Regions from separate parts of the Homo sapiens genome. Here all the other regions are linked to region 1. Evidence: fine-mapped expression QTL. A gene starts in region 1. Each other region holds a variant in brackets. All regions are shown on one strand. Distances are from middle to middle.

What was found.
Region 2: its variant is fine-mapped to the expression of DNAAF9 in prefrontal cortex (GTEx, PIP 0.97).
Region 3: its variant is fine-mapped to the expression of DNAAF9 in whole blood (INTERVAL, PIP 0.95).
Region 4: its variant is fine-mapped to the expression of DNAAF9 in fibroblasts (GTEx, PIP 0.91).
Region 5: its variant is fine-mapped to the expression of DNAAF9 in fibroblasts (GTEx, PIP above 0.99).

The regions. Positions count from the first base shown.
Region 1 is chr20:3,405,609-3,410,710 of GRCh38, forward strand. It overlaps DNAAF9 (dynein axonemal assembly factor 9), which reads right to left and starts at 2,061. Exons shown (of 37, transcript NM_001009984.3): 1 at 1,867-2,061. The coding sequence starts at 1,949. RefSeq lists silencers at 1,725-1,804, 1,865-2,104, 2,145-2,394 and enhancers at 2,385-2,584, 2,961-3,462.
Region 2 is chr20:4,156,014-4,161,115 of GRCh38, forward strand. All of the region lies in intron 1 of SMOX (spermine oxidase), which reads left to right. It overlaps LOC124904861 (a long non-coding RNA gene), which reads right to left. Exons shown (of 2, transcript XR_007067504.1): 2 at 2,550-5,102. Among named protein-coding and RNA genes, the nearest start is that of SMOX, 9.7 kb to the left of the region's middle. RefSeq lists enhancers at 1-95, 1,624-2,124, 4,751-5,102 and a cis regulatory region at 11. The variant G/T (reference allele first, on the strand shown) is at 2,160.
Region 3 is chr20:3,268,015-3,273,116 of GRCh38, forward strand. DNAAF9 (dynein axonemal assembly factor 9) reads right to left here. Exons shown (of 37, transcript NM_001009984.3): 30 at 2,413-2,548. Among named protein-coding and RNA genes, the nearest start is that of SLC4A11, 31 kb to the left of the region's middle. The variant C/CT (reference allele first, on the strand shown) is at 2,122.
Region 4 is chr20:3,302,185-3,307,286 of GRCh38, forward strand. DNAAF9 (dynein axonemal assembly factor 9) reads right to left here. Exons shown (of 37, transcript NM_001009984.3): 21 at 2,256-2,359. Among named protein-coding and RNA genes, the nearest start is that of SLC4A11, 66 kb to the left of the region's middle. The variant T/C (reference allele first, on the strand shown) is at 2,309.
Region 5 is chr20:3,252,574-3,257,675 of GRCh38, forward strand. It overlaps DNAAF9 (dynein axonemal assembly factor 9), which reads right to left. Exons shown (of 37, transcript NM_001009984.3): 34 at 3,433-3,638; 35 at 2,646-2,711; 36 at 1,153-1,246; 37 at 1-111. Among named protein-coding and RNA genes, the nearest start is that of SLC4A11, 16 kb to the left of the region's middle. The variant T/G (reference allele first, on the strand shown) is at 2,403.

The DNA of each region.
Region 1 (5,102 bases):
GGAGTTCGGGTATGATCAGTAAAGTGAGCCAGCATACTTCTTTGAACATAGAATCACTACCTTTAAAAGAATAAATAAAAAGCACATGGCCATGCTACTAAAAACAAGAAAGGCAGCATTTAAGAGACAGATTCTAAGGTAGAGATGATTTTTTTCCCCCTAAAGATCTCAACAGACTCAAATCCAAATTCCTAAGCTCAAGATGATCTGGGATAAACCTCAAGTCCACACAGAGCCTAGATTTAACGGATGGCTGTTCTAAAGTATCCTATGCAATGTCTATACAAGTTCAAATACTTTCTGCTTCAGACAGTGAAACTGGCAGAAATGTTGCAAAGGATTGGAGATGCGTTACTATAAGCAGTTAAACTTGGAACTGTAAAGCCCACAAGGAATTACACTGAAGGGCAGAGCAGGAGTTCAAAAATGTCACCTGACAGATTCGAAGCAATTTAGGACTCCTAAATGCAATGTTTCATTGGTATCTACCCCCCACCTTCTCTATCCTTTATTTGTTCAACAAACATATACTGGATTCTGGGTTGTGGAAAGGAATGCAGGGAAGTAAAAAAGAAACAGGTTTCTAAGAATCAGTTTCTTGTTCTCCAATAATTTGGTCTAGTTAAAGCAAACAAACAACCCCAAAAATCAGATCAGCAAGCAAAGTTAAAACATATGCCTTAAGTACCATAACAAGAATATAAGAAAACTGTTTTAACATGTAGATTGGCAACCTCCTTTCAAGGGAACAATATATTTGCTTTGCTATGTGGCTAGAATAAGAAAAAGCAAACAACAACAAAACCCTCTCCTGTTTTAATGACAGTTTAGCAGTACCAAAGCTCATCGCTCGCATTCCCCCTCTCCCTCTCCTTCTCAAAGGTCTCTGCTGCAACCCCTCCATCATTCCAACCTCCACACTGCGCCGGCGCCCCACACCAGCTCCATCACAAACAATGCCCAGACCAACAAGATCAGCACCAAACGCATAGGGCACAGAAATCGGAAACGGATCTTCCTATATCTAAAGGGGGCGGGGAACGCTCCCCACGATCACCCCCTCCCCATACTGAGGTAGCTTGGGACTGTGTCTCTACGGTAAGGGGCCTGGCGTCCGCCGCTTTCGGAGGTTCTAGGCCTCTTTCCCCTATTTATCCAGTTTTTCCTCCTGCGTCCCTAATACCTCTACTTCCTCCCAACCCGAGCTCCCTATTGTGGAGTGAGGGGGCGTCGCGATGCAGGCTGAGGCAGGGGGAGCTGGGGAAACGCGCGACAGGGGAGATGCTGTCATTATGTACGTAGGGGGCGGGGGACACTCTTTAAGGAAGCCGTTGTCAAGGGCAAAGGCTCTAGAGACCCACGGGAGGGGGCTTTCTAGGTAATCCATTTGGGGGTTCTACACGAGGGAGCTATTGTGTGTGTGGAGGTGTGAGGTCTGTAGAGTAGCAGTTTCTGAGGGAAACATTCCCTGGGGAAGGCGAGTGAGTTATTCATAGGGAAGCCTCTGTGGGGTTCTGTGTAGAAGAATCCTTCCTGGGAGAAACGTTCTATGGGGGTGAGGACGTCATAACAGTGTCTTCACAGGGAATCGCTGTCCCTAGGGAAGCCATTGTGGGGAAACCGTTGCAGGGTTGTCTGTGGGGGAGCCATTGTGGGGAAACCGTTGCGGGGTTGTCCAAAGGGGAGCCATTGTGGGGCCTCTACAGAGGGCGCCGTTCCTGGGAAAAATTCCTCCCTGAGCCGTTCAGCAAAGAACCGTCCCGAGGAAGCCATGTCGGACCACGCCCTGCGGCGGGAGGCGTCGCCGGACCCCGACAGCCCGCATCCCCCGCCCGGCCGCCCCTCGGCTGCCTCTGCCCCGCGTACCTGACGGAGGGTGACCCGCGGCTGGAGCCGCCAGGGGACCGAGCGCGGGGCAGCCCCTGCCGGCGCGGGGGGTACACGTCCATGGCGGCGGACGACTGGCGGCGGAGGAGGACGGTGCAGCTGCGAGGGTCTCAGTTGCCCGCAGGGCGGCTCCACGCTAGCTGCGGCCGGGCGGGGCGGCAGGGCGTGCCGGGTGGGAGGGGGCGCGGCGCGCGGGCCCGGCGGGGGCGGGGGCGGGGGCGTGGAGGGGGCGCGCGCACCGAGAGCGGATGGGGGCGTTGGGAGCGGCTGGAGTTGGGGGTCGGCGCACGGCCACAGGGACCCCACTTCTTAAGCTGCGAGGCCGCCGGACCGGATGTTGGGAGCGCGTGTCCGCAGGGTGAGGGTTGCCACAGCGCCGCCCGGCCTCGTCCTCAAGCCCGGCATCATAGAGCGGGGCTCTGCGCGGCGCCCCCCGGCCACGCACACGGACGCGCCCGGGGGCGGAGCCTCTCCCAGCCCGGCCCCGCCCCTCCGCCTCTGCCCGCCCCGCCCCGCCCGACCAGCCCCGGCCTCCAGCGAAGTCTTCCGCTCCGGCGTCAGGATCCAGCGCACCTCCCCAGTACCCAGCGCACCTCCCCAGTACCCGGCTCGCTTCCCTGTTCTCCGGAACGGTGTCTTCCCGCTTCCTGGTCATCAATTCCGCACCCACCCTTCAAACATCCAATAGATTCCTAGCCGGCCTCGGGTTAGCGCAGCAGTGCGCACCCAGCCCTGCGCAGGGCATGAGCGTTAGAGGCGCACAGGATCCCAGAAGACCCCTAACCTTTACTGTTAAGATCCTAGCTCTACCGGTTTCTGCAGGGACATGTACAAGAAACTTGGGAAATACTGCACTGATAGTTGCCAGGAGTCCTGTATATACAGGACGTATTTAATGATTATTGGCCTGCGTCCTTCGTTGACCTCGTCGGAATGCCTTAAATGTCCTGTATTCATCTTTTTACACTAAATTGCAATAATTAGAGCTATTTTTCTCCCACAGTAATTGGTGCTAGATCACTTAAATTACAACACTGGCTGAAAATCCTTCCTACACTAATGAAGATTTGGACAATCCCTATGGTGTCTCCTTCAGGTTTGGCTGAGGGAAGACCAGAAGGGAGTAGGAATTTAAAGTGCTCGTCTTTCATATTCAAGAAAGGAAAATACTTTTTTAGCTCAAGTCCGGAGTCGTGAACAAATAACCACCATTATTTAGAGATAACTTCTCGTCGGTGCAGCAGCTCTGAAAATCAGCCAATCAGCGATAGCCTCACTCCGGTAACTATGCTTCTTAGTAAATCAATGACAACCCCACGCTTCTGAAAGTCAGCCAATCAGTGACCGCTCTAAGCCTCCGACAATAGCCAATCAACAAGTGCCTGACACCAGCGACCAGGCTTCCGAAAGTCAGTGGGTACTCAGCTGCCGCACTCCACTTCTGATTCGGAAAGACAGCCAATCCCTGAAGGCGAATATTTCCAAAACCATTTTTTTTTCTTTCCCAGACTGAGTCTCATTCTGTCGCCCAGGCTGGAGTGCAGTGGCGCGATCTCGGCTCACTGCAACCTCTGCCTCCCGGTTCAAGCGATTCTCCTACCTCAGCCTACCGAGTAGCTGGGATTACAGGCTCCCGCCACCACGCCTGGCTCATTTTTGTATTTTTAGTAGAGACGGGTTTTGCCATGTTGGCCAGACTGGTCTCAAACTCCTGACCTCAGTTGATCCGCCTGCCTTGGCCTCCCAAAGTGCTGGGATTACAGGCCTGAGCCATCGCGCCCGGCCTTTTTTTTCTTTTTCTCCTTTTTTTTTGGAGACAGAGTCGCACTCTGTTGCTCAGGCTGGAGTGCAGTGGCGTGATCTCAGATCACTGCAACCTCTGCCTCCTGGTTCAAGCGATTCTTGTGCCTCAGCTTCCCAAGTAGCTGGGATTACAGGCCTGTGCCACCAAGCCTGGCTAATTTTTTGTATTTTTAGTAGAGACAGAGTTTCGCCATGTTGGCCAGGCTGGTCTTGAACTCCTGGCCTCAAGTGAATCGCCAGCCTTGGCCTCCCAAAGTGCTGGTATTACAGGCGTGAGCCGCGCCCGGCCTTCAAAACCTTTTATAAGATCAGCTCTGGCTTTGTTCAGAGAGGCTGTACCTTACAAGTACCGCTCTCCCTTGCAAGCAGAGAAGAAATTCACTTTTTTTTTGCATCAGATATTGAGTTCAATTTATTGTTTTGTCCGAGTTCAAAGTTCACAGCTCAAGATTCAATTCCCAGTTACTATTTGGTATGAGTTTGGACTTATGACAGACGCTATGACACCGTCATGAGATTTATCAAATACAACTCTTTCAATTCTTTCTATGCTTGCAGTGATCAATTTTTTAGCTCAAGTCCAGAGTCATGAACAAGTAACCACCATTATTTAGAGATAACTTCCCATCGGTGCAAAAGCTCTGAAAATCAGCTCTAAAAACAATTCAACGGGGCTACACGTGGTGGTGCACGCCTGCAGTCCCAGCAATTTGGGAGACTAAGACAAGTGGATTTCTTGAGCCCAAGAGTTTGAGACCAGCCTGGGCAACGTGGCAAAACCTCATCTCTCTGTCTCTCTCTCTCTATATATATATAGTTTATTTATAAAAATATATATTTATATTATAATTTATGTATACAAATATATTTCATATATGCACACACACACAAATTGGCCAGGCATAGTGGCATGTGTCTGTAGTCGCAGCTATTCAGGAGACTGAGATGGGAGGATCGCTTGAGCCTGGGAGGTCTAGGATGCAGTGAGTTAAGATCAGGCCACTGCACTCCAGCATGGGGGACTGAGTGAGACCCTGTCTCAAAAAAAAAAAAAAAAATCAATGAGTATAGGCACAGATTTGTGCAACCACCACCACAATCAATTTTAGAACATTTTTATCACTCCAACAGGAAAATCCTGTACCTATTAGCAGTCATTCCTCCATTTCTTCCCAACCACCCCAGCCCTAGGCAACCACTAACCTTTTAATTTGCCTATTCTGGACATTTCATGTTATCAGCATCATTCAATATATGGTTTTTCATGACTGGCTTCTTCCATTTAGCATAATGTTTATAAGGTTCATCCATGTTGCAGCATGTATCAGAATTTTGTTCCTTTTCATGGTTGAATATTATTACATTGAATGGATATACCACATCTTGCTTATCCATTTATCTGTTAATGAACA
Region 2 (5,102 bases), 750 kb after region 1:
TGCGGGATGGGAGGGGATAACATTTCTCAAAGACTGTTCTGCGCAATCTCAAGCGTTCAGGGGACAAATAAGGGTAGAAACTGGCAAATTCACTCCACTACCCTACGGGAGATTCAGAATACATTTAAGAGAATTAAAGGTCCTGACAAGTCCTGTAGAAAAGAAACTGTTTAGTGTTTCCCAGCCTGATCTGACCGTGGAAATCTTTTTTTTAAATGACTGCCAATAATGTCCCACCCACCAGGAAAACACCTGCTGGGAAAAGCTGATGTGGAAAGATGCTGCTCACTGGAAGGCCACGAACATGGTAGCACAGGTGGACTTCCTGGTAGAGGTAGACTTGGTGGGATGGGCACATTTGGACAATCAGTAGAAGAAGAGGGCACTGCAGAGAGAGAGATGCCAGGCTCCCCTCTGAGGCCTCAGTTTCTTCATCTGTAAATCTTTGCCCCCCATGTCTGCCTCCCCACCTTCCTTTGGGTGTAGCAACTGCTACCCCCCTGCCAGTGCCTGGTGGGACCTCAACTGACCAGGGCCCTCAGATGTGCCCATCCCACCTCTACCAGGAAGCTCCCTGCCATCCTTCCTTTTCTCCCTGGTATTTCTGGGCCGAGAGCCAGCCCTGGGTTCTTGTGGCAATGGCTCTGCCTCACTGGGTGAATGAGGAAGGATCTGGAAGGACCTGTCTGGTGCCTGGGATCCCCAGGTAGCTGGGCCTGGGTCTTCTGGATTCTTTTTCTTTTTTTTGAGATGGAGCCTCACTCTGTCACGCAGGCTGGAGTGCAGTGGCGCAATCTCAGCTCATTGCAACCTCCACCTCCTGGGTTCAAGCAATTCTCTTGCCTCAGCCTCCCGAGTAGCTGGGATTACAGGCGCTCACCACCACGCCCTGCTAATTTTTGTGTTTTTAGTAGAGGTGGGGTTTCACCGTGTTGCCCAGGCTGGTCTGGAACTCCTGGCCTCAGGTGATCTGCTCACCTTGGCCTCCCAAAGTGCTAGGATTACAGATGTGAGCCGCTGTGCCCGGCCATCTTCTGGATTCTGAGAGGGCCTTTTCCTTATACCTCCCGGGCATTTCCTCGCTTTGCAAGTTCTCCCCAGCCTTTCATCTCAGAGGTTAACACAGCAGGGTTGTGAACTCTGGACAATAAGCTAAGCCTCTCTGTGCCTCCGTTCCCTCATTTGTACCATGAGGGTAATATTACCTCCCTCCTAGGGTGGCTGGGTTGTTGTGACACTCTAATACCGGTTGGCTGCTCTTACTACTGGATTTGACATGGCTGGAGGAGGGACCCTGGGGAGGGCCCTGTCATCGTGGACATGAGGGAAGAAAGCAAGAGCCAGCAGAAAGCGGCACAAGGCTTAGGTTGGGGTCCTGGTTAGACCAGAGTAGCCTGCAGAGGAGAAGAAAGAGGGTGTGGGTAGCTAGCAGGACTGGCTTCCTGGAGGAATGGCCAGTTAGGTGGGGAGATCTGGACAGAATGAGAAGTCACAGGTTTGAGTCTGAGAGTCAGAGGATCCTGGTGGGTGTGTGTAGGGGACAAGTGGCCTGCGGGCAGGGAGGAGGCATCAGGGACTACCTTCGTTCACTGGGCTGTGGCAGCCCACAGAAGGTTTTGAGCAGGGCAGTGATGTGATCAGAGCAGTGCATTAGTGAGACATGAGGCAGGGTGTGAGTGATGGTGGGCTGTGGGAGGGGGCGGTGCTGTGCCCCTTCATGGACATGAAGCTGGGGGAGGGGCCAAGTTGCGGACGTGACCCTCATTCTCAGACTCTCAGGGCAGTCAGTGAGGCTACCCTGCCTCGCCTCTGCCACACCTCCTTTCCTCTGTGGTGTGAGGCTCTTTGTTCAGCAGCTCAGGTGGGGGAGATGGGCTGTGGTATTTTTTATTTTTTATTTTTTTTGAGTTGGAGTCTCGCTCTGTCGCCCAGGCTGGAGTGCAGCGGCGCGATCTCGGCTCACTGCAACCTCCGCCTCCCGGGTTCACGCCATTCTCCTGCCTCAGCCTCCCGAGTAGCTGGGACTACAGGCGCCCGCCACCACGCCCGGCTAATTTTTTGTATTTTTAGTAGAGATGGTGTTTCACCTTGTTAGCCAGGATGGTCTCGATCTCCTGACCTCGTGATCCGCCCGCCTTGGCCTCCCAAAGTGCTGGGAT[G/T]ACAGGTGTGAGCCACAGCGCCGGTCGGGGTGTGGTATTTTAAATACCCAGGAGGAGCTACGGTGGTGCGTGGGGCAACATTGGCCCTCCGACCTGACCCGAAGGCCCTGGTGGGGCATGCTCAGTGGATTTTCCTACCCAGCCCTAGCTCCCCTCTCTTGTCCTCCTTTGCCCCTTTGTCTTTCTTCCTCAAGCATGTAGGAGCCCAGTGCTCTCTAAATCTGGGGCTGGGAGGTTGGAGGATGAGGAAAAGCATCTGGATTCAGGTGGAGCATGGTGGCCTAGCTGGGGGCATTGCAGCACCCCTTAGTCCAGATTCCCTTCTTCTCCACCTGCTTCTTGAGGGACGGCATTAAGGAAGGTGTGACTTAAAGTCAGAAGAACAAGAACTTGGAAGTGAGTTGCAATTTATTAGAAAACAGAACAAAGAATCTAGCCACCCCTGCCAACTCTGTGCTAGGCCCTGGCAGACACATGGGTCCTGTCTTCCCCATGCAGCCCCGGGGGCCTGAGTGAGGCATGATGGGTCTCACTCAGTTTCTGGGACATCTGTCTCGATGCCCTTTCGTCAACCCCATGGCTCTCTCAGAGCCTGTCCTCATACCTTCAACTGCTCCCCACCCATAACCAGATCTCCGGGACAGCCCAGCTCAGCCAGCGCACCTCTGATCCTGGCGGGTGGTGGTGATACTCCTTGCAGGCTGAGTTGGCTAGATTTTAGGATGACTCAAGCAGGAGACACCCAGCACCACCAAGGGGCATATATTCTTAGGAAATATTTTTAAATGATGCCTTTAAATGTTAAACACACAGGGACCTTTTACTCTCTCTTATTTTGGAAAATTAAAAAAAAAAAATCATACACAATGCAAAACCTTGAGAGTTAATCTGAAAAGGTTTGGAGTTTAAAAAGTAACTCAAGGAAAGATAATGAACTTGACTTCTTCATTAGATTTTTTTTTGTTTTTGAGACAGAGTTTCACTCTTGGAGTGCAATGGCGCGATCTTGGCTCACTGCAACCTCTGCCCCCTGGGTTCAAGCGATTCTCCTGCCTTAGCCTCCCAAGTAGCTAGGATTACAGGTGCCTGCCACCACGCCCGGCTAATTTTGGTATTTTTAGTGGAGACGGGGTTTCACTATGTTGGCCAGGCTGGTCTCAAACTCCTGACTTCAAGTGATCCGCCCACTTCGACCTCCCAAAGTGCTGAGATTACAGGTGTGAGCCACTGCGCCCAGCTGCTTCTTCATTAGATTTTAAAAAGAGCAAGGCCTGAGGCTTAATATATTACTAAGTAAAATTTAGAGGCAGGCTGATAGCAGGCTGTGGAACCTCTCTGAATCTCAGTTGCCTCCTCTGTACTATGGGGGTATTGATGTGAGGATTGAGGTATTCCACACAAAATGCTTGGCACTGCACTCTGTATCTCAGGTGTATTCAGCTAAAAATAGAGTGATAACAATGATGATAGGATTTTAAGAACAGACCTTTCTTGATGCTTCAAAAGCTAGTGAGTTATTCTCTCTTTGAACTCCACAAAAGGGCCTAAAGAATATGTTTATGTCCAAACTCAGCGTCTCCACTTCATAGGGGTCTTATGGATGAAATCATGGGCGCATGGCCCCTGTGTGCATTCTGAAATGAACCCCAGTGGCTTTTGAGACCTGGTTCCAGCCCTCGCGTGGGTGGGGGACTGTGCTTCATGGTTGAATTCTATGGAAAGTGCTTTATTGGTTAATCCTGTGGTCTTCTTAGGAGAGCACAGTTAATGTACCCTGAAGTCACCAGGAGGGGAAGGTCTCGGGCCAGTGATCGAGGACCGTCTAGAGGCAGTTATGAGTTACTTGCTTTTTGAATTTTCTTTTGTGCTGGCCAATGCAATTAGAACTTGTCCCTGGCCCTATTTATGGAGGAGGAGATCGAGGGTGAAGGACTGAGGCCTGGCTAGTTTAGTGCCTGGCAAGCCTAATCCAGCTGCATGGGGCAGGGAGACCAGGGTGACCTGCAGGGACCCCACTAAGCGCCCAGGCCAGAAAGCAGGTAGCTTCCCGGTGGCAGCCCCAGGCTTTGGCAGTGAAGCTGGAGTGAACCATCAGGCCTTGAGATGACTCCTGCCAGCCCCAAGTGCCTGGCACAGTGTGTGCATATCAGTATGTGGGGAGGAGTAAGATGGGAGAATCGTTGAGCCAGGGCAGTCCTCGGGCCTGCCGCACCCCTGGGGAGGCTGAGTAGGGGGGCCTGAGGTCGGAGCAGGGATTGAGCAGTGTTGCCCTGCCCTGCCCCTCACTCCATCCAGGTGGCGTCTGTCATGCCTCTGAACCTCTTGGGGCCTGTTTCCTCATCTGTAAAATGGGCAGCAGAGAGTTTATGAGTATTAAAGGATGCAGTGAATGGAAAGTGCCCAGCAAAGGGCCTGGCACAGGAGGGGCAAAATAGAGGTTTGCTGTGAGGTTCATCTGGTGACTCGATTTTTCTTTGGATATTTTCCTTTTTTCGTTTTGTGATCATGCATGCCACCTTGGCTCTATGATAAATTACGTTGTGTGGACACCATAAGAGAGGTATTTGTGCTGGAAAAGGGTTTACAGTGGAGGAAGGCCCGTCTCCACCTTCAGGGAGGAAGGCTGCCTGGATCCAGCACGGCTCAGACAGCTCTGACACTGGGGCTGTCGTGTCTCTTTGTGGGCAGAAAGCACAGGTCCCAGGCTGGGCAGAGTGGGACCCTGTGGCTCAGGAGGCAGGATGGGCTTGCCGGAGACCCCACCCCCTCCCCGGGGCTGGAGCTGAAGCACAGTTGGGCTTTGTGCAGAGTCACGAGGGGCCGCTGAGGGGGAACTGCGCCCGGCTGAGCTCACAGGCCTCAGTTCTTGTAAGTGGTTTTGAAAGAGTCAGCGGAAAGTGCTGACTGAGCTGTTCTCCTTCACCCCAGAATTGTGAGGCTGCG
Region 3 (5,102 bases), 140 kb before region 1:
AGGTTTACTTTTTTTTTTTTTTTTTAATTTTGAGATGGAGTTTCATTCTTGTTGCCCAGGCTGGAGTGCAATGGCATGATCTTGGCTCACTGCAACCTCCGCCTCCCAGGTTCAATCAATTCTCCTGCCTCAGCCTCCTGAGTAGCTGGGATTACAGGTGCCTGGCACCACGCCTGGCCAATTTTTTGTATTTTTAGTAGAGGCGGGGTTTCGCCATGTTGGCCAGGCTGGGCTGGTCTTGAACTCCTGACCTCAGGTGATACGCCCGCCTCGCCCTCCCAAAGTGTTGGGATTACAGGCATGAATCACTGTGCCCGGCCCCTTTTTTTTTTTGAGATGGAGTTTCTCTTTGTCGCCCACCTGGAGTGCAATGGTACGATCTTGGCTCACTGCAACCTCTGCCTCCTGGGTTTAAGCGATTCTCTTGCCTCAGTCTCCTGAGTAGCTGGGATTATAGGCATGCGCCACCATGCCCAGCTAAGTTTTGTATTTTTAGTAGAGACAGGGTTTCACCATGTTGGTAGGGCTGGTCTCGAACTCCTGACTTCGTGATCTGCCTGCCTTGGCCTCCCAAAGTGCTGGGATTACAGGCGTGAGCCACTGCACCCAGCCTAGATTCGCTTTTTTTGGTTTGTATTTAATTTAGTTTTTTCCCTCCTTTATTTAATTTTTGAATACATAAAATATCTACATAGTTCAAAAGTCAAAACTACATTAAAAAGGTATATAACCTTTTATCTGAATTGAGCAAACAAAACAGCTATATAACCAGGTGTTTTCTCCTCGTATATGTGTGTACACAAACAAAATCACTAATTCTCTATTTTTAGTTTGTAATTTGAACCCAAGTCCATGAAGTAAAGAGATAATATCTCTATGTTACTTTTTTTTTTTTTTTTTTTTTTTTGAGACAGAGGCTCTGTTGCCCAGGCTGGCTGGAGTGCAGTGGTGCGGTCTTGGCTCACTGCAAGCTCTGCCTCCCAGGTTCACGCCGTTCTCCTCCCTCAGCCTCCCAAGTAGCTGGGGCTACAGGTGCCTGCCACCACACCTGGCTAATTTCTGTATTTTTTTAAATATAGAGGCGGGGTTCCACCGTGTTAACAAGGATGGTCTCAATCTCCTGACCTTGTGATCCGCCTGCCTTGGCCTCCCAAAGTGTTGGGATTACAGGCGTGAGCCACTGCACCCGGCCACTTTTTTTTTTTTTTTTTAATAGACAAAGTCTCACTACTTCGCTCAGGCTGGAGTGCAATGGTGTGATCATGGCTCAGTATAACCCTAAACTCCTGGGCTCAGGCAATCCTCCTGCCCAGCCTCCTGAGTAGCTGAGACTACAGACATGCACAACCATGCTGGCTGTTTTTTTAAAAAACTGTTTTGGTAGAGACAGAGTGTCACTATTTTACCCAGGCTGGTCTTGAACTCCTGCAAGGAGTTTTGGGCTCCCTAAGTGCTGGGATTACAGGTTGAGCCATCACATCCGACCCTTCTCTACGTTCTCTATGCCATTTCTTTCACACTTTAATACAAGGATGTTAAGAGAATCTTGGCTACCATCCTTCAATGGATGAGAATGTGAATGGATCAAAACAAAATGCCTCAAAATGGTACACGATGGGGTCTTCTTGGTGATTTTTACAGAGCATCTAAAGCACTTCGGCCAGGCGTGGTGCCTCACGCCTGTAATCCCAGCACTTTGGGAGGCCGAGGCAGGCGGAACACAAGGTCAGGAGATTGAGACCATCCTGGCTAACATGGTGAAACCCCGTCTCTACTAAAAATACAAAAACAAAATTAGCCGGGCGTGGTGGCGGGCGCCTGTAGTCCCAGCTACTCAGGAGGCTGAGGCAGGAGAATGGCGTGAACCTGGGAGGCGGAGCTTGCAGTGAGCCGAGATCGCGCCACTGCACTCCAGCCTGGACGACAGAGGGAGACTCCGTCTCAAAAAAAAAAAAAACACTTCAAAAACTGTTTTTTTTCTTTTTCCAATATATTTTTTCTTTTTCGAGATGGAGTATCACTATATTGTCCAGGCTGGTCTCAAACTCCTGACTCAAGATCCTCCCACCTCAGCCACCCAAAATGCTGAGATTACAGGCACGAGCCATTGTGCCCAGCCTG[C/CT]TTTTTTTTTTTTTTTTTTTAAAGAGATGGGGTCTTGCTCTGTCTCTCAGGCTGTGGAATGCACTGACACAATCATTGCTCACTGCAGCCTCCAATTCCTGGATTCAAGTGATCCTCCCTTCTCAGCCTCCCGAGTAGCTGGGACTATAGGTGCGTGCCACCGCACCTGGCTCAAAAACTGACTTCTCCAAATGTTTAGGTCTTAGATACAGTAGAAAGACTCTGTGGGCCACAGACAGAGTGCTGTATCTGAGAAAGCAACTGGTCTTGCAGAGTGAATCTATAGATTACCTGGTGACAATCCCATTTTCTGCAAGAATGAAGGCTGCAGCAGGATTGGCAGCCCTGATGAGGCTCTGCAGCTGAACAAGGAGAGGGTGCCGCTGCTCCGTGGTGTGACTGGTGAATACCACGTTACTCACCAGGCCTGGGAATAAAACCAAGGACAGTTTAGCCTTCACAGTCCTGGTTAGGGGTGAAGGCTCACACAAACGTGAGCCCTTGCTCCATCCCCTAATCATGCCTTCCAGTAGTCTCCTGATGGAGACAACCCTTACACCCCAATACCAACATAAACAGCTATCATTCTCTTCCCACTTCCCGGCACTGCCACCTCTTGGAATGAATAGCTTCAAGTCTGTAGCTGCCTTACTACCTAACCCCTAACTTCCTCTATCTTTTTTTTTTTTTTTTTTAAGACGGTGTCTCACTCTGTTGCCCAGGCTGGAGTGCAGTGGTGCGATCTCAGCTTACTGCAACCTCAGCCTCCAGGGTTCAAGCAATTCTCCTGCCTCAGCCTCTTGAGTAGCAGGAATTACAGGAACCCGCAACCATGCCTGGCTAATTTTTGTATTTTTAGTAGAGACGGGGTTTCACCATGTTGGCTAGGCTGGTCTTGAACTCCTGACCTCAGGTGATCAGCCCACCTCAGCCTCCCAAAGTGCTGGGATTACAGACATGAGCCATTGCACCCGGCCTCCTCTATTATTTTAATTCTGGTATCTAGCTGATACTTGGAATTCTTAGTCAAAGGGCCTTTTCACACATCCTGTATTTAGCATCATCAGGAACTGGTGCCATTTACCTTCACCAGTTCAGAACAACACAATTATCAAAAACTCACCATATAACAGGGGTTATTCATTATATCCTCAAAGAGTGCACTGCCAAGATACTGTGCACAGGGAGCCACATGATTCCAAGATAAATGCTAACAGATTTTAGTCACGTGGTAAGAAAGGGTGGCCCATGTAAGAAGAGGTTGCAGGGTGGGCCATGATCACTCCCAACCTTTTGGTGAAAATACAGAAGTAAAATTCACAGGACCACAGAGAATTTGGAGATCAGGAAACTTACCACACTTCACCACCCCAAGATAATTATAATACCCCTTCCATATTCATTCCTATTTTAACAGTTATAATCATAGCGCATATATAAGATTATTCATTTTGCATTTTTGTTATTCAATAATTTTTATTTACTTCTTCTTTTTTTTTTTTTGAGACGGAGTTTCACTCTTGTTGTCCAGGTTGGAGTGCAATGTTGCAATCTCAGCTCACTACAGTCTCCACCTCCCATGTTCAAGTAATTCTCCTGCCTCAGCCTCCTAAGTAGCTGGGATTACTGGTGCGCGCCACCATGCCCAGCTTATTTTGTATTTTTAGTAGAGATGGGGTTTCTCCATGTTGGTCAGGCTGGTCTCGAACTCCCGACCTCGTGATCTGCCTGCCTCGGCCTCCCAAAGTGCTGGGATTACAGGTGTGAGCCACCGCACCCAGCTGTACTTCTTAATATCGTAGAAAATTTCAAACATACACAACTAGAAAAATAGTAGAATGAACTCCCATCACCTGGTTTCAGGAACTACCAACACTCAGCTAATCGTATTTCATCTACACTCCACCCAGCTCATCCCCGGCTCCCCTACTGTATGATTTTGAAGTCAATCCCAGATACCCAATTATTTCAAACAAAAATACTTCAACGTGAATTTCCATAATATAAGGACTCTAAACATATTAACAATGAACTCCTTAATATAAAAAAATCCAGTCTGTGTTCAAATTTCTCTGTCTTATAAATGTTTTCTCAGTTAATAATTTTTGAATCAGGAACCAAAGGAAGTCTACATATTATATATATTTATATATTCAGTGGCTCACTGAAGCATTGACCTCCTGGGCTCAAGCAATCCTCCTGCCTCAGCCTCCTGTGTAGCTGGGACCACAGGTGTGCGTGCCACCATGCTTGGCTAATTTTTTTATTTTTTTTAGACACTGGGTCTCATTTTGTTGCCCAGACTGGTCTCAAACTCCTGGGCTCAAGTGATCCTCATGCCTTGGCCTCCTCTAAAGTGCTGGGATTACGGGCGTGAGCCACGGCACCCAGCTTCATTAGGATTTTCAGTTCCTCTAGTGGTCACTTTTATATCTTTAAAGAGTATACTTAACCCTTTATAACTTGATTTAATAGCTTTAAACTTTATCAATCTCCCATTCTGAAAGATGTAAAGAGTATCTCTCCTCTGCCAATTTTTTGTAAAATATAATTTCATAGATAGGCTTTCAACATTTATATTCTATTTTGTAATAGAATTCTCACAGGTGTTATAATTCTATACTTAAAAAAGATTCAATGCTCATCATCAACCCATTTACTAATAGAGAGTAGTTTAATTATTTTTTTATTATTATTATTTCTTGAGATGGAGTTTCGCTCTTGTTGCCCTGGCTGGAGTGCAATGGTGCAATCTCAGCTCACCACAACCTCCGCCTCCTGGGTTCAAGTGATTCCCCTGCCTCAGACTCCCGGCCTCCCGAGTAGCTGGGATTACAGGCATGCACCATCATGCCGGGCTAATTTTATATTTTTTAGCAGAGATGGAGTTTCTCCATGTTGGTCAGGCTGGTCTCGAACTCCTGACCTCAGGTGATCCACCCGCCTCGGCCTCCCAAAGTGCCGTGATTACAGACGTGAGC
Region 4 (5,102 bases), 100 kb before region 1:
TGCTCCAGTCTCCCAAGGTGCTGGGATTACAGGCATGAGCCACTGTGCCTAGCCATAAAAAAATTTTTTTATTTTTAATTAATACATAATATGCACATATTTATGGGGTATAATATATTGTTTCAATACATGTATACATTATGTAATGATTACATCAGGGTAATGAATGAGAAATCCATCAACTCAAACATTTATCATTCAGAATCTTCTCTTCTAGCTATTGTGAGATCTGAACACCTTATTGTTGACTGCAGGCACCCTACTGTGCAACAGAACACTAGAATTTACTCATCCTTTCTAACTTTGTATTCATCGATCTACCCCTCCCCATCCCCTAAAATACTTTTTAAAGGGTTTTTGCATTACTAATTAGTCTGACAAATTTTATGATATACCCATACAATGGAATACTACTTAGCAATAAAGAGAACACAGCTATTTACATACACAACATGGATGAATCTAAAAATCACTATGTTGAGTGGAAAATGTCAGACTCAAAGGTTACAGAATAGATGATGTTCATTTATATAACATTCTAGAAAATGCAAACTAATATATAGGGACAAAAGCTAATCAGTGGTTGTCTGAACCCAGGAGTGGAGGGAAAGATGAAAAAGGGCATGAGAAAACATTTTGGTTTGATAGTAAAGGTGGTTTCATGAATGTACACATCTGCCAAACCTTTAAATGGATACAGTTAGTTGTATTTACAGTATACTTTAATAAGTTAAATTATCAGCATAAAATTTTTAAAAATCAGTAACTGGTCAGCTGGGTGTGGTGGCTCATGCCTGTAATCCCAGCACTTTGGGAGGCCGAGGTGAGTGGATCACGAGGTCAGGAGATCGAGACTGTCCTGGCTAACATAGTGAAACCCCGTCTCTACTAAAAATACAAAAACAAAATTAGCCGGGCGTGGTGGCAGGCGCCTGTAGTCTCAGCTACTCAGGAGGCTGACGCGGGAGAATGGCGTGAACCAGGGAGGCAGAGCTTGCAGTGAGTCGAGATCGCACCACTGCACTCCAGCCTGGGCAACAGAGCGAGACTCTGTCTCAAAAAAAAAAAAAAAATCAGTAACTGGTCAAATTTGACAAACTTTTCCTTTAGAATTTCTTGTATTGTTTCTAAGCTTCAGAAGTCTTCTAACCCCTAGAGGTTTAATAAATATTCATTTTTATATTCTATTTGTGAAATTTAAATATATTTAATTTTAATCCCTCAGAAGTTCATTTTGATTTTTAGTAGAGGTAAGAGTCTATTTTTTGTCGAAATTAGCTACTTATCATCCCAGTACTGTGCTTTTCATGATGCATTCTTTCTTCCCTGATATTGGAAGACTCTTTAATCTAACAGCAACACTTTAATCTAATAGGGCCATCCAATGTGTCCAATTGGTCTGCCTACATTTCTGAACAGCCTTTAAGGCTGCAGGCTCTATATGGAAGAAAAACTTGCTCACAGAATTCGTTTTCTGAGCCATCTGACCAAAATACCTCACATAGTCTCTGTCCTAGCTCCCAGACAGACTGGTTTTGAGGCTGAGACCAGGCAGAGTGGTGGGCCTGCCCTCTGCTCTGGTGTTGCACTGAGACGAGCTGTGCCTTGGCCACAGGGTAAAGGCTAGGGGAAACCCATAGCTACCATCTTCCCCTTAAGGTGAATGGGAAGTGTTGGTGCAGACTGGTGAACTTAGAGGATTGTTATAGGACAGTGGAACTTTTATGGAGCTGGAGAGGAAGTCTGGGTGTGTGAGGGAGGAGGGGCTAAACTCTCACGGGGAAAGTGAGCCATTTCTCTCCCTCTCTGGCTCACTTACAATCCTGTCCATGCTAATGTGTATGCTGAGCCTCATCAATACCACAGGATGCAGCTCCTTTCTGATTTTTCAGTGGGTGAGCCTTGAGCCCCTGGACCTGGAGGCCACCCAAGAGGGGCCACTGGAGGCCTTCTCAGCCTGCTTTATAGTCCTCTTTAGGGTGAATGAATTGGGCATGGGGAGCTGCTGGCCCTTCTGACCAGAAGCCCTTTCTAGGTAAGCCCTTTACAGAGCAGTGAGGTTGATGAGGCTCGTAAGCGTCTTGAGAATGCCCAGGCCTCTCCACGACCTCCCTCCCTGCCTGCCTCAGTGGCTGTGCTGGTTCCTGACATACTGCCCTGTGGTAGTGGAGGGGAGAAAGGAGTTATTTAGTTTTCCCCTCAAAAGTGTGAGCAACTTTCCGACCAAAAAAGCCACTGACTAGTAAAACACCTACCCCATCATAGAAGGAAATGGAATTCATGTGATCCTTGGAAATGATGATACTTC[T/C]ATGACGACAGTGAGAAAACAGAAGGCCACTAGAGAAGAAATGAACATTCCCTGGAAGGAAAAGAGAGTTGGTCAGAGCTGGAGGGCTGGGTGCTGGGGGTCAGATTCCAATGTCCTCTTGTACAGCAGTGTGGTAACTAGAGGCCAGTATCAGTAGCAATTACGTTATGCGATTTGTATGCTGAGCCCTGTGCTCTGAGGAAGCCAAAGTAACCTCCCAAAGCCTCAGAGGGAAATGAGGCATCAGATGCAGTCTTTGCATAAGAATTAGAAAAACAAGTGAATAAACTATCAGCTAATGGGGAGAAGCAAAATTCACATTACCTTATGGGTATCTTCCACGGAAACACACTAAAAAAGACTTTGGGTATATCTGCTCCATTACTGAGTTTACAGATTTTCCTTTCTTCTGCTTTGCCAGAAGCTGGCTCGGCCCTAAAGAGACCACATCCCTCACTTAGGGCCCGAGAAGGAGCACTTGGGTCTCAGCTGAAGACTGGTGAAGGGAGCTTAAGGTCCCTGTGCCCAGCAACAGAACATTTGAGTTAGGTAATGAGTAAGTTCTACAGACACTGGGGGGCTGCTCTTCTGTAGTTCACAAAAGCAAGATGGGTGACAGGTGGACATGGATGTGGGTTCCTCGGAACAAGGATTCAGGTCTAAGGAGAGCTGTTGTTTCCTGGATGGTCAAGGTCATATGGAGCAGCTCAGTATAGGCCCTAGGGAGCAGACCATGGAAAAGATGGACAACTAAGATGACAAAGATTAATGCTGGGCCTGGGCTTGCTTTGGAGACACAAAAGCAGCACCCAAAGCACCCATAAGACTCCTAGGTGAAGCTGCTCTCTGGGGCTGGTCCAAGCTGAATCTTCTATTCCTGTAACAGCTTTTCTTTCCATGTTTCCGCATATAGAGGGAGATGAAGTAGTTCTTAAAGCTCAAGGCACAGGTTTGAGTTTATTGTCATTAAGACCTCACTGCCAAGGCAAAGGCCAAGAGATAAATAAGTGAAATTGATTCCTTAAGTTGTAGCTCCAGAAAAGCAGTGCAAAGCTCTGGAGGCTGGAATGACAAGAATAGCAAAGGCCAGGAGTCTGAGGGCTGCCTTCACATCCTGGGTGAGGAATCTGGAGACTGCAAGCTTTGAGGGCTTCCTGAGGAGGTGAGGTTTCAGAAGGAAGGGAGGGGCCTAGTTAGTATGTGTTCACAGGGGACAGGAGAAGTGAAGGGAGAAGGAGGCAGTTTTTAGGTACAAGAAGAAGAACTGGCACCTGCCTCTCATGGAAGAACCAGATGCCCCGTCAGAGGGACATGCCAACCTTACCATCTGTGGCAGCCACAGCCAGCGACTATCTAGGTTCAAGCTCTGGAAACCTCTACCCTCCAACAAGTAGCCTGGCTTTCTGTGCACACTGCCTTTTCCTGAGGCCCTCTGAAAAGGAGGCTAATCATGCCCCAGCCTCATCCTGTACCAACCCTAAAGTTCCTCCATGCTGCTCCCAGGCCAGTCTCCCCAACACCACAGCATGTTACTTTCATTCCCCTAGAGACACAAGCCCCTCCCTCTACTGCTCACACCTACTGCCCTCCTGACCATGCCATATTTCAAATCACTCTGAATGTGCTCAGTCTTCCCTTCCAATGCCAACACTCCCATTCCTTCTTAGAGCAGTAAAGCTGCACCCAGAATGTCATGACTTCTGAAATCTCCAGCCCAGCAACTACTCTCTGACTCCAGCACCCCATCCCCCTTTTAGCTGTTTCCCTCCCCACACCCCATCCTCTGATGTCACTGAGCCTTCACAGTCATTGGTATTCGCATTTTCCCCTATTGCTCAGAAATTTCTGATATTCTTCTCATCCACATCAAGGGCAGATCCTCTGGGACAGGACTTAACCTTTAATCTTTGTTCTGTTAAAAGAAAGGAATGGGAACAGGTTTCACGCAGTATTTACTAAGCACCACACATGTCATACATTATAGTTTTCTGTTTTCACAATTGTAACAGGTGGTATTATTTTTTCTCATAGGACAGATGAGAAAACTCAAGCTTAGAGAGATTTCCCCCAAAATCACAGCATTACTTGGTGGTGGAGCCAGGTACAGAACACAGGTTTGTCTGATGCCAAAGACACTATACCATGCTGGTGCCTTCAGTTCTCTCATGTTTTTTTTCTTTCAATTCTCCCCTGTCCAAAGCCCAGCTGTGGTGAATCTGTAGATGTGCCTTCTCTGCTCCCTCAACCACAACAGGCCACAGTGCTGCCCCGTAGCCTGTTCACTGCTGTCTCCCCACTCCTTCCATCAGCCCACAGAGCTCATCCCAGACCTTCAACACTCTCCTAAAACCACAACCCCACCAACTCCTGCCACAAGATGACTCTACTTACTGTTTCCAGAGATAAGAGGGCTCCATAGGTGTCACGAGGTAGAAACTGCTCCTGCTGCTGAGTGGTTAGTACCTGCACCCTTCCCTGTCCTGGGTATCCCTCTACATTTGTACTTTTGAAGTGAACCTTTTTAGAAACAAGTCCAGTGCCACTTGAAAGGCCTCCTGGACAAAGCTCAAAATCCTGAAGCTTCCAGAAAAAAGCACAGATTGGAGAAGCTGGCACATTCCATTTACTCAATAGGAAGATGGGAAAGGATGAGCGAGGTCATCTCCAGCATTTCCTCTCCCACTAGACTCTGAAGCCTCAAAACAAAATGGAAAAGAGGAAGACAAATTCACAAGACAGTGCTGGAAGAGCTCATTATGGGGCATGAGCCAAGGCAAGGTCTCAGTAAACAGGA
Region 5 (5,102 bases), 150 kb before region 1:
AGGGCTTCAGCTCAAAGAGGTCATGATACTCCTGCTGTTCCAGCTCCTGGTTATACTTCTCAATTTCCCGGTTGGCTTCTTCCACGTAGTCATTCATGAACTGGTCCATGACTGGTATCTCATTAAGGAAGAGAGCTCTGAGCCTGGAGGACAAGGGAGGCTGCCTGAGCCCAGAGCGGCCTGTAGGCAGGTGAGGGGGGTTTGCTGAGGAAGTGAGTGTCTGGCCCATAGAGAGGGAACCTGATGGACTCTTTGTATATACTGGCAGCACCACAGCTACAAAGAATGCAATGGCTGTTGTCACAGGGATGTTAATGAGGTCCTAGAACTGAGCCCTTCAGCTTCAGCCCTATCCATCTTTTCACAGGTTAACTGTTGTAATTAGGCTGTCTTCGACTTGTAAATCGTGACTCTGATGACGACAGACTTCAGGATATCACCGCAGCTGCATCCAAACTATAACTCACAGGCTGGGCGCAGTGGCTCATGCCTGCCATACTAGCAATTTGGGAGGCTGAGGTAGATGGATCACTTGAGCCCAGGAGTTTGAGACCAGCCTGGGCAACATGGCGAGACCTAGTCTCTAAGCTGGGCGCGGTGGCTCATGTCTGTAATCCCAGCACTTCAGGAGGCTGAGGTGGGAGGATCACCTGAGGTCAGGCGTTTGAGACCAGCCTGACCAACATGGAGAAACTCCGTTTCTACTAAAAATACAAAATTAGCCGGGCACGGCGGCAGGCGCCTGTAATCCCAGCTACTCGGGAGGCTGAGGCAGGAGAATCACTTGAACCTGGGAGACGGAGGTTGCAGTGAGCTGAGATTGCGCCATTGCACTCCAGCCTGGGCAGCAAGAGTGAAACTCCATCTCCAAAAAAAAATTAAAACAAGACAAAACCAAAAAACTATAACCCAGAGTCACATTAGCAATCACTCAATAAAGGAGCAATTTAACTTTAACAGCTTTAGAGACTGAAATGAAAAGTTCGCCCCTGAGGTTTGCCCCTGTGCATTCCTGACCCATCAGTGGACATGCAGAGTGCTCCTGGGGCTCAAATGCATGGCTCTGGCAGACAACCGCTTTGCAGACAGGGTCACACACTCCCAGCCTCACTGCCCGGGTTCCACACAGGGACCACGCTGTTCCAAGGATACGTGGGTGAAAATCAGTTTTGTCACCAAAGAAGTTAACAAATTGGGTGCCATTATAAAAGTAGCCTGCAGGTAGGGGTTCCAAGTGGCGTTTTACCTGTAGGAGAAAAGAGACCTGTAATAATTATCTGACTACTTTCTATACTTCACTCACTCATTAAAACAAACAAGTCTATTTCCCTAGCAAGATAGACTACTCTGCTATACAGAGGAGCTAGGAAGCTAACACCCCCGGCAAACCTCAAGCCCTGCCTGAGGTGGTTCCCCACCTCTCAGGTGAGGAGCTCTGGGAGGTCCTAGTGGGATGAAGTTCCCACGGTGTGCAGTGGTACTGATGTGCAAACACACTCTTTTATTTATTTATTTATTTTTTTGAGATAGAGTCTTGCTTTGTCACCCAGGTTGGAGTGCAGTGGCGTGATCTTGGCTCACTGCAACCTCCATCTCCTGGGTTCATGCAATTCTCCTGCCTCAGCCTCCCGAGTAGCTGGGATTACAGGCATGCGCCACCACGCCTGGCTAATTTTTGTATTTTTAGTACAGACAGGGTTTCACCATATTGATCAGGCTGGTCTTGAACTCCTGACCTCAAGTGATCCACCCACCTCAGCCTCCCAAAGTGCTGGGATTACAGGCGTGAGCCACCATGCCCGGCCACAAACACACTCTTTATTGGCTGTTTCCCCCTCTCCTCTTTCATCCTCCTGTTTCCTATTTAGTGTCTCCTAGAATCACTTCCAAAATAAACTACCTGTACTTAACTCCTTGTTCACGGTTGGCTTTCAGGGGAACATGCATTATAAGGACTACCTTATGCCCATGTTGTCCTCCCCAGGAGCACCCAGGTTGTCCGGGCCTATAGGAGCTGTTTATGAAAGGGGCCTCCTCAAATCCAAAGCAGGGGCTCCTGGAGTCCCAGAATACTTTCCTGCCCCACCTGCTCATTACTGGCATCCTGGGGACCTAGACTCTGTGTCCTTTTTAGCTTTTTGTCCCCAAACCCCTCAGGAAAAGGCCCCAGTGAGCATGGCGACTGAAGCAGAGGCTGGGGGTCAGAGCCTGGAGGCTGGGAGGCTCATCAAGGGGGTCTCTCAATCAGCCTCTTATCCTGGCCTCAGGTTCCACAGCCTTCCTATGAGCAGCCTCTGGATCCAGACAGTTTTTGCCTGGGCTCTAGCTGGTTCATCTGTAACATAGGTCTTCTGCAGTTGCTTGAACAAGGTGCCAAGGCAGGGCTTCTGGTCATCAGCTTC[T/G]CCCACAAGTACTGGCTCTACTCAATCTGATGCCCAGGTCACACCAGAGGTCTCCTGTGCCCTCCTCACTGAGGCTGCAAAGGCCAGAATTCTGTACGCAGCTTCCCTCTGTGGCCTGGGAGAAGCAAGACCTCCAGCATGTCCTACAAACAGCTCCTCACTCAGAGAATCCAAAATACAGAGCTAGGCAAGCCGAGGACAGCCCTGGGCCACCGAGGGGAGAAGCCAGGGCAAGGCACTCACGTGGATGCTCCTGATCTCCTGTTGCGTCAGCATCCCCCTGGTCTTCAGGGCTTTCCTCTGAGGCTTCTGCAGAGATGGGGAGTGGAGGGTCAGGTCCCAGCAGAACTCATGGAGTGCATGGGCAGGGGAGGGCTCTGGGCTCTATTACACAACTAAGATCTCAGCAGTGGGGAAAGCACGTGCGCTATGGCCTGGATATAATATTCTGTCTAGTCTGCTCTTTGAGAAAACCACTTTCCCATCACAGAGCCCTGTGAGCCAGCAGGGAACAAGCAGCAGAGGACAGCCCAGTGTTTTCGTAAATGGGAATGGTCGTGCCTCTTTGTAGATTCTTATCCCTCAACCCTACCAATGAGAGGCAGACAAAGGGGCAGTCTGAGGCCCCACAGTCAAGAACCGTTTAGAAGCTTATCCAAGTGAGGCAGCCCATCCCTCAGCATAAAGACAGGTCCCTAGTGAGCATCTGCAGAAGAGCCAGGCCCCAGCTAACTCTAGTCCCAGAGTTCTAGGATGAACTAAACCCCCAAGGCTGTGCTACAAGGCTTAGCACCCAAACCTTGCAGAGAACCTGGCTCACAAAGCAAACAACATAGCAGGCCTGCCTGGAGTTTGCTCTCAGTGGCTTCCTCCCTCTCTCAAAGTGTCCCTGCAAGTGCTGGCTGGGCCAGGGAGAGGAAGCCCAGTGGGGAGGCATCAGGGAGGCAGTGGCGGGGCTTCTCAGGGCCAACAGCAGCTCTGAGGTGTCTGGTCACATCTGTGTCAGGTCTGTCTGGGCTCTGGAAACCACCTGCTTAGCTGACTGCCGCAGCCAGTCCTTGATGCTGTCTTCCTTCAGGGAGCAGCCGATGAACACAAGGTAGCACTCCTGCTGCCCGCTGCTGTCTTGAGATACGCTTTTGGAGTCTGGTGGTGGTGTGGGTCCTTCCAAAACTGGCATGATGCTCAAGGAGTTGGCCAGTGTGTTGTAGCAGACCTCCATGGTCCTCTCAGAGTCTGTAAGGAGAATACACATTAGTCCCTGAGAGCCTGCCTTGAAAGGATACAGCTATGCTAAGACTGTGACAATGCAGATGGTTGGGATAGATTCATGAGAAAATGCAAGAGACAGAACTGATGTGACTGGTGGCAGCTTAGAAAGGATGGAGTAGGTGGGCACAGTGGCTCATGCTTGTGGTCCCAGCTACTCAGGAGGCTGAGGCAGGAGGAGCACTTGAGCCCAGGAATTCAAGGCTGCAGTGAGCTGAGATTGCGCCACTGTACTCCAGCCTGGGTGACAGAGGGAGATCCCATTTTGTTTTGTTTTTTAAAAAGGAAAAGAAAGGATGGAGTAAGAGAGAGAGACAGAGAGGAACAAAATAAGTTTCTGGCTTGGCTGATCTGGGTGATCAGGTGGACACTATTATCCCAGAAGGGAAACACAAGAGAAAAAAAAGGTTTATAGGTGGGAGAAGAGGAAGAGTTTGACTCTGCACTTGTGGCATTTGAAAGTCTCTAAGACCCTGAGCGTGAGACATCCACATAGTCCCTGGTGGTTGCTGGAATAGCTGTTATGGAAGAGGTGGTTGAGGAAAAGCAAAGAAACCCCCTTGGTAGAAGTGGGGGGCTCTCAGCAGAGGCCTCAGAGGCCAAGGGAGGAGGGCACAGCCAACAGTACAACAAAAAAATTAGCTGGGTGTGATGGTATGTTCCTGTAGTCCCAGTTACTTGGGAGGCTGGGGTGGGCAGTGACCTAGGATTGCACTACTGCACTCCAGCCTGGGCAACAGAGCAAGACCCTGTCTCAAAAACAAAACAAAACAGACAAAAAAACCAGTACAGCAGTGTTGCACGAAGGTCACACAGATGAGAATGGGAAAAAGTGTTACATGCTAAGGAGATGAGGGCTAGGAGTGACTGGAGACCCAAGAAGTGGGCAAGGGCTCCCTGAAAGGCAGGATGAGAAAGGATCCGGAAAAAAGCGAGGTTAAATTTGAACAAAAAAAGAGTCAATAGCAGATCTAAATAAACAAGAGGCTGGGTGTGGTGGCTAATACCTTAATTCCAGCACTTTGGGAGGCCGAGGCAGGAGGATCACTTGAGCCCGGGAATTCGAGACCAGCCTGGGCAACATAGGGAGACCTTGTCTCCACAAAAAAGAAAAAAAATCAGCCAGGCATGGTGGTTCACGCCTATAGTCCCAGCTACTTGGGAGGCTGAGGTAGGATGATCGCTTGAGCCTGGGAGGTCAAGGATGCAGTGAGCCGAGATCAAACCACTATACTCTGGATTAGGTGACAAAGTGAGACATTGTCTCAAAAAATAAAAAGAAGAAAGAAATAAAAATATTTATTTATTTATTTTATTGAGACGGAGTTTCACTCTGTCGCCCAGGCTGGAGTGCAGTGGCACAATCTCGGCTCACTGCAACGGCCGCCTCCTGGGTTCAAGTGATTCTCCTACCTCAGCCTCCCAAGTAGC